Homo sapiens: one gene and its partner. The protein of the gene in region 1 purifies or fractionates together with the protein of each later gene. This does not show direct contact. Each region holds a gene or a part of one and is shown on either strand. Other genes may lie near its edges.

Evidence for each region.
Region 2: the proteins of NCOA5 (region 1) and GALC purify together in Homo sapiens (affinity purification with mass spectrometry; 3 studies listed by BioGRID and IntAct, with this or other methods). This does not show direct contact.

What each region holds. Positions count from the first base shown.
Region 1 is NC_000020.11:46,085,540-46,095,916, reverse strand, and holds the start of NCOA5 (nuclear receptor coactivator 5), read left to right. Parts: upstream 1-5,954; 5' UTR 5,955-6,100; intron 6,101-10,377. UniProt on the Homo sapiens protein: Nuclear receptor coregulator that can have both coactivator and corepressor functions.
Region 2 is NC_000014.9:87,989,142-87,998,763, forward strand, and holds the start of GALC (galactocerebrosidase isoform a precursor), read right to left. Parts: upstream 4,042-9,622; 5' UTR 4,024-4,041; coding exon 3,829-4,023; intron 3,714-3,828; exon of another isoform or gene 3,190-3,713; coding exon of another isoform or gene 3,163-3,189; exon of another isoform or gene 1,956-3,162; intron 1-1,955. UniProt on the Homo sapiens protein: Hydrolyzes the galactose ester bonds of glycolipids such as galactosylceramide and galactosylsphingosine.

The DNA of each region.
Region 1 (10,377 bases):
AAGCAATCCTCCCATCTCAGCCTCCTGAGTAGCTGGGACTACAGGTGCATACCACCATACCCAGCTAGTTTTTTCATGTTTTGTAGGCCAGGGGTCCCTCTATCTTGCTCAGGCTGGCCTCAAACTCCTGGCCTTAACCAGTTCTCCTGCCTTGGCCTCCCAAAGTGCTAGAATTAAATGAATGAGGCACCATAGCAGGCCCAAAATGTTTAGTTTATTTTACTCGTATTTATTAAATCTGACAACTCTATCTCAGTGTCATTCAGGGATCTTTGTAAACATTAGCTATAGTACACAAGATGTAAAGTGCTTTCCTTTCACACAAATGAAAGATATAACAGGAAAATGTGGTTGTAATTGAAAAATTATAGGACTTTGAATTAAGACTTGGGTTCTAAGTTCTGGTTTCGACTTGACTTCTTAGTAAATGTATGGCTTTAGATAAGTCACTTAACCTAAGTATCAGGTTCCTCACACTGTATAAAATGTTTGGGTTTATTTGTTTGTTTTTGAGCATCAACTATATTCCAGGAACTTTACATGCATGATTTCAGTTAATCCTTACAATGACCTCATGAGGAAGGTCTTATTATCCCTATTGTCAAGACAGGTACCTGTGGCTTGGTTGAAGCTCTGTGAAAGCACGGACCATCTCTTTCTTGTTCACTGCTGTGTCCTTTGTGTCTAGCATGGTAAACCTAGGAGGTACTCAATACATATCAAATGTATGAAAGAAGACCCAAACTCACATAGCTAAATTAAGGGACAGAGCCATGATTTGAACCCAAATCATTTTGATTTCAAAATCTTCATTTTGTTCTTTTAATTAAATTTTTATTGATGTATACTTTACATATAGTAAAATGCACAATTTTAAACCCATGACTCTATAGACGTTTACCTGTGTACATATTCCATGTAACCACTATGGGATCAAGATATAGAACATTTCCATCTTCCTGAAAGTTCCTTCAAGCTCCTCCCCAGTCTATGCCCCCAGAGTTAACCTCTATTCTGACTTCTATCACCAAAGCTGCCGCTCTTAAGTACTAGGTTTCTCCTCTCCTGGGTTGTGTCAGATGATATGCAAAGTATTCCTGAAAGTGTTTTTGCAAACTCAGGCTGCATCTGAGTGCTGTTGGCGTTTAGAATAGGTCTTCATGGGCCGGGCGCGGTGGCTTACGCCTGTAATCCCAGCGCTCTGGGAGGCCAAGGCGGGTGGATCACATGGTCAGGAGTTCCAGACCAGCCTGGCCAATATGGTGAAACCCTGTCTCTACTAAAACTACAAAAATTAGCAGGGCGTGGGGCGGGCGCCTGTACTCCCAGCTACTCGGGAGGCTGAGGCAGGAGAATTGCTTGAAACGTGGAGGTTGCAGTGAGCACAGATTGTGCCACTGCACTCCAGCCTGGGCCATAGAGCGAGACTCGGTCTCAAAAAAAAAAAAAAAAAATAGAATAGGTCTTTAGGCCAGCCGCTCATCACCAATACAAAAGTGAGATTCAGCAGGGTGCAGTGGCTCACACCTGTAATCCCAACACTTTGGGAGGCCGAGAGGGAGGATGACTTGAGCCCAGGAGTTTGAGACCAGCCTGGGCAACATGGTGAAACCCTGTCTCTACAAAAATTACCCAAAAAAGCCCGGCATGGTAGCACATGCCTGTAGTCCCAGCTACTCAGGAGGCAGAGGTGGGAGGATCACTTAAGCCCAGAAGGTCAAGGCTTGATCGCCTTGACAGAGTGAGACTGTCTCTAAAAAAATTAATTTTTAAAAATCAAAATTTTGAGGCTATATTATGCCCTGCATTTGTCAAAATGGAAGGGTTTTACTCAAGATTGCCTTCTGATCCTACTTTCTGATTCTCTGCAGTAATCTTGTCCTTAAAAAAAAAAAAAAAAAAAACTACATGTTTTCTTTATCATAGACCCTCTGGTTCTCTCTCCTGGGATATTCCTGAGCCCATTGCTTAGACACTTTTTAATCACCACTTCATTACCCAAAACGTATCTGGCTTCATCCTATAAAGCAGTCTGAAATACTAAGAAAAATACCAGATTAAAATAAAACCAAATTGATATCTCAAAAAAATTCCTCCACTATTGACTATGGTATTGAATTTACTCTTTCTTCTTTTTTTTTCTTCATTCAACAGGTATTTGCTGAGCACCAAATGCTGCCCCCTCCAGTTTGCTGTTTGAGTGGAATTGCTCATTGCCCTGTCTTGGCTGTCCTGTAAACCACAAGGCCTACTCATATGTTCTAGGAAACACACATCGTTCTTTAGTACTGGCCACACTTTAAACTATACCTTTCTTCCCTTACAGTAAGGGGTAACCCACTGTACACCAAATTTTAACAGCCAGTGAGCTTAAAGATCTATCTGACAGAAATCAGATGGCCTCCACTGTAGCAGATTTTCAATTTATCTCCTGGTCAAACTTTGGTGCTCACCTCTGAAGGGTTACAGGCTTTTACACCAATCAGGTACCCCCTGATTTGGAAGGGAACCTCTTATCCCAGAAGACAGTATCACTCGTGGTTACAATAGCATTTTGGGCATCAGGCCGCACAGGTTCAGTGAGTCTGGCCATGCCACATAATCTCTGTGGGACAAGCAAATTAACTGGCCTCAATTGTCTCATTTGTAAAATAGGAATATAGTACACATATTACAGTGTGTCCAGAATTGGTGGGTTCTTGGTCTCACTGACTTCAAGAATGAAGCCGCAGACCCTCATGGTGAGTGTTACAGTTCTTAAAGACGTCGTGTCCGGAGTTTGTTCCTTCTGATGTTCGCATGTGTTCGGAGTTTTTTCCTTCTGGGGGGTTCGTGGGCTCGCTGGCTCAGGAGTGAAGCTACAGGCCTTCCAGGTGAGTGTTACAGCTCTTAAGGTGGCACGTCTGGAGTTATTTGTTTCTCCCAGTGGGTTCGTGGTTTCAATGACTTCAGGAGTGAACCTGCAGACCTTCCCAGTGAGTGTTGCAGCTCATAAAAGCAGTGTGGACCCAAAAAGCAGTAGCAAGATTGATAGCAAAGAGCAGAACAACACAACTCCCACAGTGTGGAAGGCAACCCGAGCGGGATGCCACTGCTGGTTCAGGCAGCCTGCTTTTATTCGCTTATCTGGCCCCACCCACATCCTGCTGATTGGTCCATTTTACAGAGAGCCGATTGGTCTGTTTTACAGACAGCTGATTGGTCCGTTTTGACAGGGTGCTGATTGGGGCGTTTACAATCCCTGAGCTGGACACAAAAGTTCTCCACGTCCCCACTAGATTAGCTGGATACAGAGTGTCCATTGGTGTATTTACAAACCCTGAGCTAGACAGAGTGCTGATTGGTGCATTTACAAACCTTGAGCTAGATACAGAGTGCCAATTGGTGCATTCACAATCCCTTAGCTAGACATAAAGATTCTCCAAGTCCCCACTAGATACAGAGTGTGGATTGGTGCATCCACAAACCCTGAGCTAGACACAGGGTGCTGATTGGTGTGTTCACAAACCTTGAGCTAGACACAGAGTGCTGATTGGTGCACCCACAATCCCTTAGCTAGACACGAAGGTTCTCCAAGTCCCCACTAGACTCAGGAGCCCAGCTGGCCTCACTCAGTGGATCTTCCACTGGGCCGCAGGTGGAGCTGCCCGCCAGTCCCGCACCGTGCACCGGCACTCCTCAGCCCTTGGGCGGTCGATGGGACCAGGCACCTTGGAGCAGGGGGCTGCGCTCGTCAGGAAGGCTCAGGCCGCGCAGGAGCCCGAGGGAGGAGGGTTGGTGGGGCGGAGAGACTCGGGCATGGCTGGCTGCAGGTCCCGAGCCCTGCCCCACGGGGAGGCAGCTAAGGCCCGGTGAGAAATCGAGTGCAGCGCCGGTGGGCCAGCACTGCTGGGGGATCCGGCGCACCCTCCACAGCTGCTGGCCTGGGTGCTAAGTCTCTCACGCCTGGGGCCAGCAGGGCGGGCCGGCCGCTCCGAGTGTGGGGCCCGCCAGGCCCACGCCCACCTGGAACTCTAGCTGGCCCGCAAGCGCCGCGCGCAGCCCCGGTTCCCGCCCGTGCCTCTCCCTCCACACCTCCCCGAAAGCGGAGGGAGCCGGCTCCGGCCTCGGCCAGCCCAGAGAAGGACTTCCATGGTGCAGCGGCGGGCTGAAGGGCTCTTCAAGCGCGGCCAGAATGGGCGCCGAGGCCGAGGAGGCACCGAGAGTGAGCAAGGGCTGTGAGGGCTGCCAGCACGCTGTCACCTCTCAATAGGGTTGTGAGGATTAAATGAGATGATATGTGTAAAGGATTCAGCACATGGTAGGCACACAATAGATGTTACCTATTATGTAAAGCAAACATCTAAATAAGAAGTCACCAAGTCCTGAGCACCTGCCTCCCTACAAGAATCTTTCTTCATAAAATTAACTTGCTCCTCTATCAAAAATACTCATCAAACACTATATATTATCGTTTGTTTATTGCTCATATTCCCTAATAGGCCATGAGCTCCCTAAGCACAAGGATTTTGTCTACCTTACTCTCTACTCTCCACAAAATCAAGTGCATAAAAAACACTCATTAAACACTTAATACACAAGTCACTGAATACATCTTTTGGCTAAAGTCCACTACCCACTTGAGGTACTGCCACTCACCTCTAAACCAACATTTTTCCCTAAGCTTGGTTATCTTAATCATCTAATTAATATGATTCTTCTTAAATTTTCATAGTATTAGGATCTATATTGGAGGGAAAGGAATAAGAATGAACATTTGTTGGGTATCCATTATTTGACAGACTTTATGTCTTCATTTCTAATTTCATACAGTCTTATAAAGTGGGAATTGGAATAACCCACTTTGCCTGTGAGTAAACTAAAGTTCTAGTTACAACCATTGAGAATCCCTATTTCTTTCCATCACAGCGTTTATCTCAGTTTGCAATTACACACTCAAGTGTGATTATTCGTCTAATGCTTTCACCAGACTGTAATCTCAAAGATAGCAGAAAAGGGTCTGCATTTGCTCATAACAGCGCCTAACAAGCAGGCATATAATAAGTATAGGGCTACATAGTAGGTATGTAATAAACATTCAGTGAATAAATGAGTGGAGTGAGCATAGGGGTAGATGTCAAAGAAATCTGGCTTCTTGTAGTGTTTAAATTCCGCAGGCACCATTTTTTCTTAGTAGGCAATATTCGCAAGGAGAAGAACTAGACCCCATGGAGTCTGAGGCGTTTCCAACACTAATAAAAGAGTACCTGATTAATATAGCTATGGCTGTGATTAATAGAGTGCATTTACTATTGTGTGAGCAAATCCCATTCCCTGTGACAAATGTATTCTATACATGAAATGAACAGTACAACATTTTACAGGCTTCACGGTCAACAGTTACATTCCGGGAAATTTTTGACGTTGAACGAATATTCCAAGAATAAATAACTCAAGAAGAACCTGTGACTATATCTCCAGAAACCTTTTGCCGCTTGTCAGTGAAACTAATAGAGTACAGAGCCTATTTAAATGTAAATTTAAATACAACATTTTCTCCACCTTTCTGCTCTCTTTGTTCCTTGTGGTCCGGAGGTTACAGGACTATATATATTCTCCAATACACACGTGTATAGGGATTTGGGGTTTTTGCTTTCAGTTTTATGCAAGACTAAATCAAGGTATTTGGGGATTTGAATGTTCTGTTCCCACAGTTAGGGAGGAGGGAATGTGCTCTGAAAACAGAAAAAAAGTACTCTGGGGCGGGGGCTGAGGCGACCACCGTGGGGCCCATCCTCAGCCTAGGACGCTGTTGCTAGGCAACTCCCTGCGTTCTCAACTCCCGCCCGAGAGCCACTTCCCGGGCCCTCATTGCCAAGGAGATCGACGCCCCAACTCAGCCCTGCCGTAAACACGCGCGGTCTTGCGACAGTGCCGCGCCTGCCGCTACGTGCGCGCCCTCTGCCCCCATCTCCACTCTCCGCCCGGCCGCCATTGCCTCGTGCCCGCGCCGGTCGGTTGGTGGCGCCTTTGTCCTACGGCGGGCAGGTGGGCCGACGCGGAGGCGGCAGCGGCGGGCCTGAGGCGAAGGAGCGGCCGGGAGCCCGCCGCGCTGGTAGCGGTGAGTGCCGGGAAGCGCTGGCCGTCAGCCGAGGCGTGGGGCTGACGGGCAGGCCGTTGTGGGGGGCCTGGCCGGACGGGGAGGCTGAGGCGGGAAGGCCCACTCGACGCGCGGCCACGGTCTCGGCTCCTCTCCGGGTGCGCGCGGTGCTGCGCATGCCCGGTGCGGGGCGCGGCCGCCTCCGGCTCCCGTCAGGCCCAGGCCCGGCCGGCCGAGGCGGCCTACGGTTCTCTGTGGTGGACGCAGGTCGGCGGCGTCGCATCGCAGCCGCCTGTCTGTGCACGAACGGTCGGTCACTAGGAGTCCTCAAGGCTTCTCTGGTTGAGCCGCACATCCCGCACCCCCTGTCGAAACGGTGGAGTCGCTCGCCCGCGGGTCCTCAGCGAGTCAGTGGCGCAGTCGGGATTCGAACCGGGCCCAAGGCGTCCCGTGGCACCGGGCGTTCTCCAGGCGTGCAGCGCCGAGCGGTGTACTGAGCGCTGTCCCCCGCCACCGTCTCGCGGCCCCTGACCGCATTCTCGGGGTGTCTCCTTGTGGTGTGACACCCCACGCGTTTTGTAGGCGCGGACCTCGGGCCCAGAGAACGGGGAGAGGAACTGTTCCCGGGTTTACCACGTAGCTCAGCGCCAGCGTCCGATCCGGCCGGCTTTCCAAGCTCCCGGCGCGGGGCACTGTCCGCTCCCCGCCAGCGGGCGAGGGGCTTCTCTTAGGACGGCGTTGCACACGTTTCAGTCTCGCGTTGCACCTTTATGTCCGTGGACCATCTGTACTGCTATTTACCAAATGTTACATTTTTTAAAAAATTCAAACTGACTCTTTTTTTCTCCTTAAATATATTTAAGGCGGCAACTTCAATCACAAACCGGGTACTGGAAAGCCAGTTATTTTTCTAATGCTTATAAAAAAAATAAATATCTGTCTGTTGAAATAAACAGTGCGTCCTTGTTCCTCCTGAAATTATTCTGCGTTCCACACTTTGGGAAACGCTGCCCGAGGAGTAGCTGATTAATTGTGGTTCTTCTGGCTTGCACTCTGTGCACAGAATTTTTCCTGAGGCAAAGCAGATTCTATGAATGCCCTGGGCTCTTCAGGGATAATGTAACAGCTTTCTTGTAAACTGTTCTCTTTGTTGACTTAAAAGTGTTAGTCCCAGGGAACTGCAAGAACTGTGTTCACTCAGGTGCACCCGGTGTGCCTGAATTTTCTTACAGCGTTGTGATGTCGTAGCCCCCTGTTGGCTCATAAAAAGATGTTTCTACAAATGCTGGGGAAGCTTTTGTGAGTTTTGACAACTCTTAATTTAATGTTTTCTCTATGAGTCAGTCTGGGTGTGAAAACTAACTTTGTGTCTACTTTTTGCAACCAGTAAAGCCCATGCTTTGCATTGTGGATATTAGAAATCACTTGGCTATTTGTTAACATCCATTTCTTCCTTTATTGTGATTTCTTTGCCTTTCTTTGAGCTCATCTGTCACTCTTCAGATTGCCTTTGAAACCTCTGACACTTCTCTTAACCTAAAACTTAGAAACACTGATTTTCCTTGTAGAATGTCCCAGCGAATCCATATTGCAAGGCTCATTGGAAGGAGTTTTTCTAGATTCAGTTTGCTCAATGTTGCATACCTGTGAACACCACAAGTTTAAAGGAGGCATTGACAGATTAACTTACTTGTAAGTTAATAGTGTGTTCATAAGATCTGTTTATGTGAATGTAAGAGCAGATTTAATTTAAATCATTGACAGGAAAGTCCCATAAGTCAGTTCAGGCTTATTCAAGTTTTCTTCCCCTCCCCTCAAAGGCTGTGTAAAAAAATATATATATATGTATATGTATATATATGTGTGTGTGTGTATGTATCTCTCCCCCTGTTAAAAACATGTTTCTTTGGGGTTACCTTGGTATGATCACAATGTAGAATTTACGTAAGGCTAAGGTCATTTTCTTCACATTTCTGAGAATTTGATTTAAGCCCGGCGTCCGTTTCAGAACTTCAGCAAATGGAAACTCATCTACCAGTGCTTGAGAGCTAAGAAAAAACAACTTGTTTGTTTTGGTTTTGTTTTTGTTTTTTCTGAGACAGAGCTTCACTCTTGTTGCCCAGGCTGGAGTGCAGTGGTGCGATCTTGGCCCCCGGGTTCAAGCAATTCTCCTGCCTCAGTCTCCTAAGTAGCTGGGATTACAGGCGTGCGCCACCACGCCCGGCTAATTTTGTATATTTTTAGTGGAGACGGGGTTTCTCCATGTTGGTCAGGCTAGTCTCGAACTCCCAACCTCAGGTGATCTGCCCGCCTCTGCCTCCGAAAGTGCTGGGATTACAGGCATGAGCCACCGCGTCCAACCAGAATAAACAATTTTTGGAAAGACTTTCGTAGTCTGATGAGAAAAGATTTATTGGTTTGAAACTTCATTTTAAATAATCATTGCAAGCAGTCCATGTTTATGACCTGCAGATGGCAGTGCCTTTGTGTAATGTTTTACTACTGTGAGGATTAATAAAATTTAGTTGTGCTTTTAAGAATGGAAAATCTTCACAAGAAATATATTAAACTTTTTCTTCCCTTCAGTTTAGGTTGTTCTCTTGTTTTTGACTCCCCACGTGAAGAATGAAACGTCTATTCCTGAAGTCACTGTTACTCTTAGTGTAGTAATGATAATAACATACAGCCAGTAGTGCATATGGTAAATACTAAATCATTGCTCCTGCCCGTCATCTTATGAGACTGATAAACTAGTTTGATCTTTTTTATTTATAGGGAAATGATGACTCAAAGAGGTTAGATTTCTTGCCCCAGATCACATAATTAGTAGAACATATTCAAGACATCATTGGAGATAATTGATTTCAGGGTCAAGCAAAATTGGGAAATGTTGAGATATAGTGGTGTCCTTACTCCAAAACTTCTCAGAGGCATTTATGTGCTAAATATGTGCAATGTCAATATCTGAGAGAGGAAGTTATCATGATGCCTTTCTCCTGCTATCCTCTCATGAATATTTTGAAGTAATAGTGTTCCTCAGAACTGACTACTCTTTCTACTACGCTGTATTTCCTCTCTGTACCTTGTGGTTTATTAATGATTACTGCATATCTTTAAGACAGCTGCTTTTAAAGCTCAATATCAGCTTTTTTGTGCAAAAATAGTTGTCCTGTGAATAGCACATATATTTGTTTAGACCATTCTGCTTAAGCAGAGTTAAACTGTCAAAAAGTTAAAAGAGCAATGACTAACAGAATTATCCTTTATGTTACTCTCATTAATGAGAGTCATTAATGACAGGATCAGGGTAAAGCCACTGTCTCAAGCAGCAGTACATTAGAGAAATATGAAGTATATTGACAGCTAAATATATAATACCAGCATGCATGCTGCTTTTTAAATGGTGGTTTTGTTACCACCAGATATGAATATTTATGGGAATGGTCATCTTCATTCTTTATCCTTTCACTTAAAAAAAGAGATAATAGGTCATCTGGACCAATTTTATGTTAAGGAAATAGTTCACCTCATAAGAATCAGAACTTTTCCAGACATCCTATGTAAAGACCAGACAACTTTAGGCAAGGATCAGGGCAGCTTAAGTTGCATTAGAAAACAGAGTGTCTTGTCTTATACCTTTAGCTCTGTAAAGTATCTTAAGGCTGGGTACAGTGGCTCACACCTGTAATCCCAGCGTTTGGGGAGGCTGAAGTGGGAAGATCCCTTTTGATAGAAGTTTGAGACCAACCTGGGCAACATGGTGAGATCCTGTCTCTACAAAAAAAATTAGCCAGGGTGGTGGTGCATGCACCTGTATTCCTAGCTACATGGGAGCCCTTTATTGAAAGTAAAATCATGACTTTTTCAATTTTTTTCTCCTTCAGTGTCAAACCAATGGTCTTTGAAGAATGTTACTAAAATGGGCAATATTTTGAATGTCTTACATTTAAATACTCCCTCACCGCATTTGGGGATAATATACATAAAGTTTCGTTAATTTGGCTTCATTGAGACTCTGTGGTAGTTCAGTTTATAGCCCCCAATAGACCCTCTAGCCACTAGATTCTTCCTTGTCCATAGCAAAGTGTTTTGCAATCTGGATCTAGTCCAACTCTTGCTTCATGTTATTCCTCTCTCTTTTATTCCTCCTATCCCCGTGTTCCCAACACCAAACTTCCTGTAGTTTTTCTAATTTATTATGTCCTTCACACCATTCCTTTACCTTTGTATGTTCTGGGATGACTTTTCTCTTTCTGGTAAACTCCCACTCATTCCTCAGGACCCAGTTTAAATGTTAT
Region 2 (9,622 bases), on another chromosome or scaffold:
AACTGACCCATAATCTATCCTTTGGGAGGCAATATAAGCAAAAAATAAATAAAAAGAGGCCGGTTTTTGGCATGAAACAGTAGCCTCAGGCTTGTAAACCAGACAGTCCTAGGTTCAAACTGCTGACACTTTGCCAGGTGTATGTATGATGGTTGGGACAAAATACTTTTATGGGGTTCAACTTTCTATTTTATATTCTCATATATGCTACCACTGACATTCTGGTAAGTGCCCATATCTACTCTGTCACACCCAAAACATCCCCAGTCCCTACCAGTGAGGCAAACACCCATGGAGCTGCTCTCTAGCCACTCTTTCCATCTACCTCAATATATCCCAAACCAAACATAGCACTTTTGCATGTATCTGCTCCTTTTCCTGAACTTGCTGTCTCAGTAACCAACACTTGCCGAAACCATAAACTTGGGCCACCTTTTGTCCAAACTTCCCATGTACCCTCAGTCACCAAGATATCCTCAATAGCTCTCAAATCCCTCCTCTACTCTTCAACCCCACTGACTTACCCAGGCCCTCCTCACTTATGAGAACAGTATAAGTGGTCTCAGGACATCCCTTCTGCCTCTCCCTGTATTCTATCTTCCATGCTACTTACGAGAGTAACCTTCCCAAAATACAAATGTAATCACGAAACTCTTCCATGTAAACATGCTAAGACCGTCCCTTTCCCAAAAGCTTTCAGGATAAAGTTCAAATCGCTCAATTTTGCACCCAAATCCCTTAATTATTTGGCTCCTAACCCTGATACTTTATCCCTTATCACTCTCACACCTTCTACCTAGATGTATCAAACAACGTTTTCTATTCTTATGCCTGGAATGCACCCCACATCCTCTCTTGGACAACTCCAATTCACCTTTCAGCTCAAATTCCACCTCTGGAATTTGAAGGAAGGATGCCTTCTGGCCCTGCTCACTGATTTGATGTAAGCGCCTCTCCTTTGGCACCAGGTCCATATCTTTATTACAACACTTTGAACCCCGGCACTCCTTTATTTTTCTGACTCACCTCTTAGTTCCTTAAGGACATGGACTGTATCTTATTCAAGTTTGTATCCTCATTCTTTGTTATTCAATAAACACTTATTAAATATTTTATGGGTCTTTTGTTGCACTGGTACTGGCAACATAAATAGGAGTCTTTGAGTCAAATGGAGTTTGTATCCTGATTTCATCATTAATAAGCTATGTAATCATAGGCAAATTATTGTAAAGTGGGCTATCTTACTCATTCAACTGCTGTAAGACTAAAATTAGATGTATGTAAAGGACTTGGCACATTACCTGGCACATAGTAAGTTCTCAATAAAGGCAAGTGTTATATACACAAATTTTTTAAAATACATATTTCTCAAAGAGCTTACAACCTAGCAGAGGCTCCAATATTAAAATAGGCACTCTTTAAATGAACACTGTATAGGCACACTAATATATCCTTGACCCTAGGTAAACAATGCTTCCTGTCCTACGCTACGCCATTAATACTGTGCGTTTTGCTGTCTAGGGTTTCTTTTGCCCTCTATGCACTCCCACATTTAACAGAGAAAGTATCGGCTTTAGGCAAACACACCAATCATGTTATTGCAAACCTATAGCCACACCTAACACAACAGCATAAGTCAAAGGCAATATAACCAAATGTTAAAATGCACCATCTAGCAATAGCAAATCACGGGATTACTAACCACACTGCCTGAATGAGGCCTGGAACTGTTTACAGGCCCAGGAAAAAGCCTTGGGGACATTTCATCATTCAGTGGCCTTGAAATAACTTCCTCCTCCCTAATCCCTGAAAATGGTTATTAACCAAAATTAGTAATGTGCAAGACATCATCCTAAGTACTTTAGGTCTATCCTCACGGCGCTCCTACCATGCAGGTATAACTGTATCCCAAAAAAAGAAAGTGAGGCAGAGAGGAGTTATAATAGATAACCCACCAAGGCCACACAGTGAAGTGGCAGAACCCAGAAGACACTCTTGGCAATCTTCTCTTTAGTCTACATTCTTTTTGTTTTGTTTCGCTTTGGTTTGGTTTTTGGGTTTTTTTGTTTGTTTGTGTTTTGAACGGAGTCTCACTCTGTCGCCCAGGCTGGAGTGCAGTGGTGTGATCCCGGCTCACTGCAACCTCCGCCTCCCGGGTTCAAGCGATTCTCCTGCCTCAGCCTCCCGAGTAGCTGGGACTACAGGCGCGTGCTACCAAGACTGGCTAATTTTTTGTATTTTTAGTAGAGACGGGGTTTCACCGTGTTAGCCAGGATAGTCTTGATCTCCTGACCTCGTGATCCGCCCGCCTCGGAAGCCCGAAGTGCTGGGATTACAGGCGTGAGCCACCGTGCCCGGCCCTACATTCTTAACTACTTACTGTACCATACCGCTTTCCCTCTCTGACATGAAGATTAAATGACAGCACTCTAAACACTTACTGGCACAACCTGGGCTAGGAACCAAGGACTCCACAAAGAAGTTTAAAGTGGTATGCAAATATAATGTTGCAAGAATTTTCATTATTTAGTGAGTTCCTATGAGGAGTAATGAACTATATAGGGATACTAATAATTGTATATTCTATCAGATTAGGTAGGAGTTTCCTACTTTGAATTACGAAATGATTCTTCTCATCTTAGTAATTTTAAACTGGGCTTAATAAACCTAATGGAAACAAAGACTTCCATTTTTCGGTAAGCTCTTACCCTAGATATAGTATCACAAGTAAAGCTATAAAAAAGATGGGGCCTCACTCCATGAAATATTGGCTGTTTCAGGTTTAGCCCAAAAACATAAAAAGGAGAATAGTAGTAGCAAAGAATAAATGCATTAACTCATCGGCCCACAGGTTTCCCCTGAAATACACATCAGCACGGCTGGAGAGATTGCAAATTAGGGAATGAAAACATAAAAATCAAAAAGGATCAGCTAACTCCAGGGGGAAAAAAATTTCCCCTAGCAGAAGGTTATATCTTGTGGTCACACTACAGACCAGGTCATCCTTGCAGCAGGCATTCAAGCTTGTTCTGAGTTGAATGTAAGGATGCAAGCTCCATCCAACTCAACCCCAAAAATCCGAGTTCAACCTTAACATTTTCAAGAAACATTAGCCCTAGATGTAATTTCGGATACAAAACCAAAAAACAAAAACCTTCTCACCCAAAGGTCGGCCACCATGAAGCCCATGGGCCCAGAGGGAGTACCCGGTAGTTTCAGGCCGCTCGCTTATCTTCCTTTTAAAGAGACCTTGAGGCACCAGTCCTGCCTCCAAACGAAATCCTATTCGGCGCTACCCTCTCTGGAGGAGCCCATTCTTACCCTGCACTAACAACTGCACGGGACTTAACGACTCCACCACCCACCAACTCCTCCAAAAGGGAGAGACACAGCCAAAGCATCCCACTGGGGCGTTCTCTTTCGCACACGGACGCTCCCGCACTCCCTGGCCCTTTCTGGAGCGACGCTCCCCGACTGCCATCTCCGCGATGAAGACAGCCTGTGCCCCACTGCCTGGGACGAGGGTTCCAGCCCCGGCTACTTCACTACTTAGACCTGTCACTTTACTCTCTGCACCTATACTCTCTGGACCTCCGGATCCTCATTTGTTCAAACCTAACTGCCTGTCTGGTTCGTGTTAAACGAGAAAGCACCCGCCCCAGCCCCGCAGCGGGCCCGCCCCAACCGCCTGCTGACTGGCACCCTAGGGGAATGCGGCGGAGAGTGGAGCCGGTGGAAACGCAGGGCAACGCCGCGGGGGCTTGTGGGGCTGGCCCCACGGGGCGGGCTCTTGCCGCCCCCCGCGTATCCCCGCAGCTTGCCGCTCACCCCGCCGCCGCTGACCGCGCCGATGCCGTCGAACTCCCGGCCCAGCCCGTCGGAGTCGTCGAGCACGTACGCGCCGCCGGGCGCCAGCAGCGCACACAGCAGCAAGGGCACCGCGGCGCGGCCCGCCGAACCCGCGGCCGCAGTCATAGCTTTCGCTCGGCGTTGCCAGGAAGCCGAGAGTAGCCACTCAGCCATTGTGTGGGTCACATGACTCCGGCGCCCAGGGAGGCGGGTCCCGTCGCCGCCACGATAGATACGGGCAGGAGGCCGCTGATGCTGACGCCGCCGCCGCCATTTTGAGTGCGGGTCAAGGGCCTCTGACGCAGCTGGCGGAGTGTTGAGAAAAGAAGCAGCGAGCTTTTTCTTATCGCTCGCGTGTCTGTGGTCAGCTACTGGATTTCACATGTACTTACTGCTGGCTTCTCTTCCGGCGTCACCTGGTGGAGCACTTTAACGCAGGGAAGGTGGATTCCAAGGTCCGCCAAAGGAAGAGGGCCATGAGTGGCCCTACCATGGCTCTTCCCCAGCATCTCAGGGAGTATCTACCTCGTGCGAGGACCAGGCTTGGACACCAGGTCCCGATTCCATTGTCATCTTGGTGGAATCACTTTGCTTTTGGAGCCTGAGTTTTCCCTTATGTGAGATGAGGCGAGAAGAGCAGCAGAGTGAGGGACTGAGAGAAAAGTTAATAAGCACTCAGTACATTTGAATGCATTCCACAAGTGGCAAATAGCTGAGAAGGTTCTCCAGTCTGGTAACTACCCCGGCATATTCAAAGCTTTTAGCCTTGAAGGAGTTAATAATATACCACCTCAAAATATGCTGCTGTGGCATATTGACTATTTTAAATTAAAGGCACTTAAAAACAGCAGGTGCAAGATCACTGTCATGGATATTATGTGTCTTAAAAGGAGGAGATGAAATTCCCATGTGAAAGATGTCTTCCCTATAAAATAACATTGTTATCTTCAAGGACAGAAAGTTGAAGTCGAGGGAAATCTGTCCAAACAAAATTTGTTAATCCCTATCTTTCTAGTCGCTTCTTTACCCCAAGCCCCTTCGCCTTATCATGTTTCACAACTACTATTTTTTGTCCATTTCACTCTATAAGCAATTGGCTCTTAACTGCTGCTTTAGGTCTTTTTTTTTTTTAATGAGGGCCCCCGTGCTATGTAAAATAAACATTTGTGTGGTTGTCTCCTGTCAGTCTATTAATATCTTAAATCAATTTAATACTAGGGCCATGCTGGGACCCTACAGGGACGAAGGTGAAATTTTGCCTCCCCTACAATTTTATAAACTATCTTCCACTGTCAGTTGAAGTGATTCCAGACAGGTAACTCTAAATTGGTAGGAAAGTTGTGAATTGCCCTGAATTTCTGCCACATCCAGCACTGTCCTGAGATTTCTGATTTCCTTGTTATTGAAGTAAATTAAAGAGACTCTGAAGAGCTGCAGAGAAAGATTTTCTGATCCCCAAATTTCTCTTAGCAGAAGTATGGAACTGGTTATCATTGCCTACACAAGCCCCTGAGATACCACAATGGCAAGGAAAAGACCCAGAGACTTTAGGACCTGTGGGATTTGTCTGCAGAACCCTATTTGGAATCTGATTATTTTGCCCCTTAACCACAAACCTAAATCTAAGTTTCAAGAACTCAATTATACTTGAAGGTCAAAGCTCTGGGCAATCCAATAAATATGCACATTAAGAACCCGATATCCCTGGGTTCTTAATGTACATTAGATATGTTTGTTCTTTCTTTCTTTTTGAATTGACTCTACGTCTATCCTGGTTTACTAAGGACAGTCACAACTTTTGTCTAAACATAATTACTGATAATGCTCCTTTCACCCTCAGTAGTCTTCTGGCTTGGATCAGTTAAATAGTCCCCTGTGTATGAACCACTTATTTTCTTTGGTTTCTTCTTTCCCCAGTACAACACGAATCTGAACTCTCTGCCTTGCCACTGCAACCAGTTTATGATGCAAGTCAGTAATTTTCAGTTCTGTGGATTTACTGTTACAGAATTCACTCTGATCCATTTGTTCTAACACAGTATTTTAAGCATGAGCTGGAGCTCCTGTGGATACAAGCCACAGTAACCATTCCATCAAGTGAATGTTAAGCTTCTCTTACCAGCTCTTAACAAGCGCATAAGACCCACTTAATACCGTGACTAGATGGGAAATACCAAGGTGATGACAGAGGAAACTACCTTACACATAAAACTAGGAAGTTGCATGACGATGTATGAATACCCAGCATACACCATCCTGTAGTACGTCATTGTGAAACGGGTCAGTGGTCAGTGGTCTCGTTGTCTGAGGTGTTATCCAAGCTTGTTGTCTCACAACCAAGAGAATTAAGGAGTGTGGACACCAGAGTGAGGTTGAAGAGAAAGTTTATTATATGAAAGAAGAAAGCTTTCTTTCTTTGCCATTTTGCCACTTTTACAGTTGAATCCAAAAGCTTTTATAAGAAACTCCTCTCATCTCTGTAGCTGTTTGTGTAACTTACTTGTAAAGCTATCTGTGCAGCTCCCCTTATCTGTGCAGCTGTGGGTATGTCTTGGGTAAGGATAAAGTTCAGCTTCTCTTGTTTGTGTAACTGTGGGTTCTAGGTAATCACCCTCTCCACCCCCATGCAAGTTCCCACAGAGCCCACCATGTATGTGCCTGAAAAGGGGAAGAAACTTTTTCCTGGGAACCTGCTAATCACACAAAGAACAAAAGGCTTCTATGTTGGGCCTTCCTTTCTTATCAGGGCAGCTGTTGCCTGAGTTTTCCCCAGGCCACTCTATGTGTGCCTGTAGCTTGATTTTTCAGGCTGTCTTTCTGTTTAAAAGAATTTTACCAAAGACCAACTTTAGCTGTCTGCCCAACTAAGTTTTCCCTTTTCTCGTCCCTCAATTGCACCTTGTAGTTGGAATGCACGCCACAAATATTTGAGCAATGTGTGAAGTCTACAAAAGAGGAAGCATAAACTCTAATGGAAAAGGTAGCCTCACTTCCAGGAAGTCCCAGTAGTTCCTATTAGTTCAGTTACCAAAGAAATTGCTTACCAGATAAATATTTTTTGTTTCTAATTTCTGATCTATATTCATGAGAGCAGACATGAGGTAAGAAAGTTTCTAATAAAAGGCCAATAAATACATGCTGACAGAAATCCTTGGAGTGCTGGGCACGGCACTCAAATGTGCTCAAGATGTGAGATAAAGAAAAATGACAGTTACCCCACGAGTGATCATATGCTTAGCTTCCCTTGCGTCTGTGGATCAGGGTCAGTGAGATAAGACGGTAAGAAAGGAAGGTCCCAGTTTTCAGATTTTAAATGAGTTTAAAAAGTAATGACAGTGTTTCTCTCTCTGTCTTTTTAATCTGAAACACTTCAAGAATTTGCATGTCATCCTTGCTCAGAGGCCACACTGATCTCTGTAACATTCCAGTGTTTGTAAATGTGCTGCCAAAGGAAACACGATGATTTTTCTCTTAAATAACAGGTGTTTCTAAGTATCACAACTATACTTCAGCCACCCCAAATCTCTCCTTTTTCTAAATAAAATAATGTGATCAAAATCAAATAGTCTCTTGAGAAGGATCAGAGATCTTGCCTTTTAATGAAAATTTATTGATAAACTCTAATAGCAGTCTGGATTTTTTTTTTTATTTCCCCAAGACTATCATAAAACGGTATGATAGCAGTCTGTTGTCTCACTTCAGGAAAAGGCTTTACTTTTATAAATCAGTCCACCTCCCCTTCAGTCTACCATTGATGGGCATTTAGGTTGATTCCATGTTTTTGCTATTAGGCTGTCAGAAATTCCAGGGCAGAGGCCAAGTTTATTTCTTCTTTGTATGTCTTAAGCACAGTGCCCAAACTGTGCTAAGTACTCAATAAATATTAGTTGAATTGAACTAAAAGACAAATCACTGAATGGTCACATAAGGGGATACGAATAAAGAATTATTTACAAAAGGAGTTGGAAACGTTTCTTAAAGTAGGAATCCCCTGGGACATAAGAGTGTGGAGTGTTTTCTTGAACTGTCCTGTAACATCTGCTATATTTTTTACCTTTTATTTTAGGTTCAGGGTGCATGTGCAGGTTTGTTACAAAGGTAAATTGCATGTCCTAGGGTTGATGTACAGATTATTTCATTACCCAGGTAATAAGCATAGTACTCAATAGGTAGTTTTTTGATCCTTCCCCATCCCCCATCCTCCACCCTTAAGTCGGCCCCAGTGCCTGTTGTTTTGTTGTTGTTTGTGTCCATATGTACTCGATGTTCAGCTCCGTCTTATAAGTGAGAATATGCAGTATTTGGTTTTCTATTCCTGTGTTAGTCTTCTTAGGGTAATGGCCTCCAGCTCCATTCATGTTGCTACAAAGAACATGATCTCATTCTTTTTTTTTTTTTTTTTTTTTTTTTTGAGACAGAGTCTTGCTCTGTCATCCAGGCTAGAGTGCAGTGGTGCGATCTCGGCTCACTGCAATCTCTGCCTCCCAGGTTCAAGCGATTCTCCTGACTCAGCCTCCTGAGTAGCTGGGATTACAGGGTGTGCCACCACACCTGGCTAATTTTTGTATTTTTAATAGAGACGGGGTTTCACCATGTTGGTCAGGCTGGTCTCGAACTCCTGACCTCGTGATCTGCCCGCCTCGGCTTTCCAAAGTGCTGGGATTACAGGCCTGAGCCACAGCACCTGGCCTGTCATTCTTTTTTATAGCTGCATGGTATTCCAGGTTGTATATGTAACACATTTTCTTTATCCATTAATAGACCACTGATGGAGATTTAGGTTGATTCCATGGCTTTGCTATTGCAAATAGTGCTGAAATGACCATCCACTTGCATGTGTCTTTATGGGAGAATGACTTATATTCCTTTCAGTATATATCCAACATCTGCCATTTGTCTGGTCTTTCAACTCTGGACGTGTTTCTTGATGGCAACTGTTAGTTATACTGCCCTACTGAGTGACTTCTCTCTAAAATATGTTATAAGGCTCTATTCATTCAAGATTTTATATAAACAAAATGAAAATAAGTCAAAGGACAGAATCCACCTAATGAAATAAATTATAAATTGCTTACTGAACATTTTCTTAAGTATAACTACAAATAAAAACTTCTATAGCAAAGAGCAGTGTAGTATAGTAGTTAGAATACTGGCTCTGGAGCCCCAGGTCTCCTGGCTTCAAATCTTTCTCCTATTGCTTAGCAGCAGTGTAATTTTGGTTAAGTTATGTAACTTCTTTGGGCTTCAGTTTACCCATCCATAAAATAGAGATAATGATGGCAATACATTAATGTGAACATTGGACAAGCTAATATTTTTATAGCACTTAGAAGAGTGACCCACACATCCTATGTGTTATATAAGTGCTTATTATATAAATAATAACATAAATGACATACCTATATAACTATCGTACAACTTTTGAGTTTACTGCTTTCCCCACAATTAATTCTGCAAAAACAGATTATTCCTGTCTTTGTATTGGTCTCAGTTTTTCTTTTTGCTGGGTTGTTGTCCACAGTCATCCAAATCTATGTTGTGTGTGGCTGATTCCTCATAGTGAGAGTCTTGGTGTGAAAGAGAATTCTGCCTCCTTCAGAAGTTAAGGAGCCAGATCCTCTCTCTTACTGTCCTTATCAGTACAGGCTCTGACAATGACCAGGCTTTCTCAATCAGTTTCTTGAACCTGCAAATTTGACCTTGGAAGAGTAACTAGATGTATGCACAGTTGAGAAATCCCACAAGAGCCATATCAGAGTCCAGAGGAGGCAGC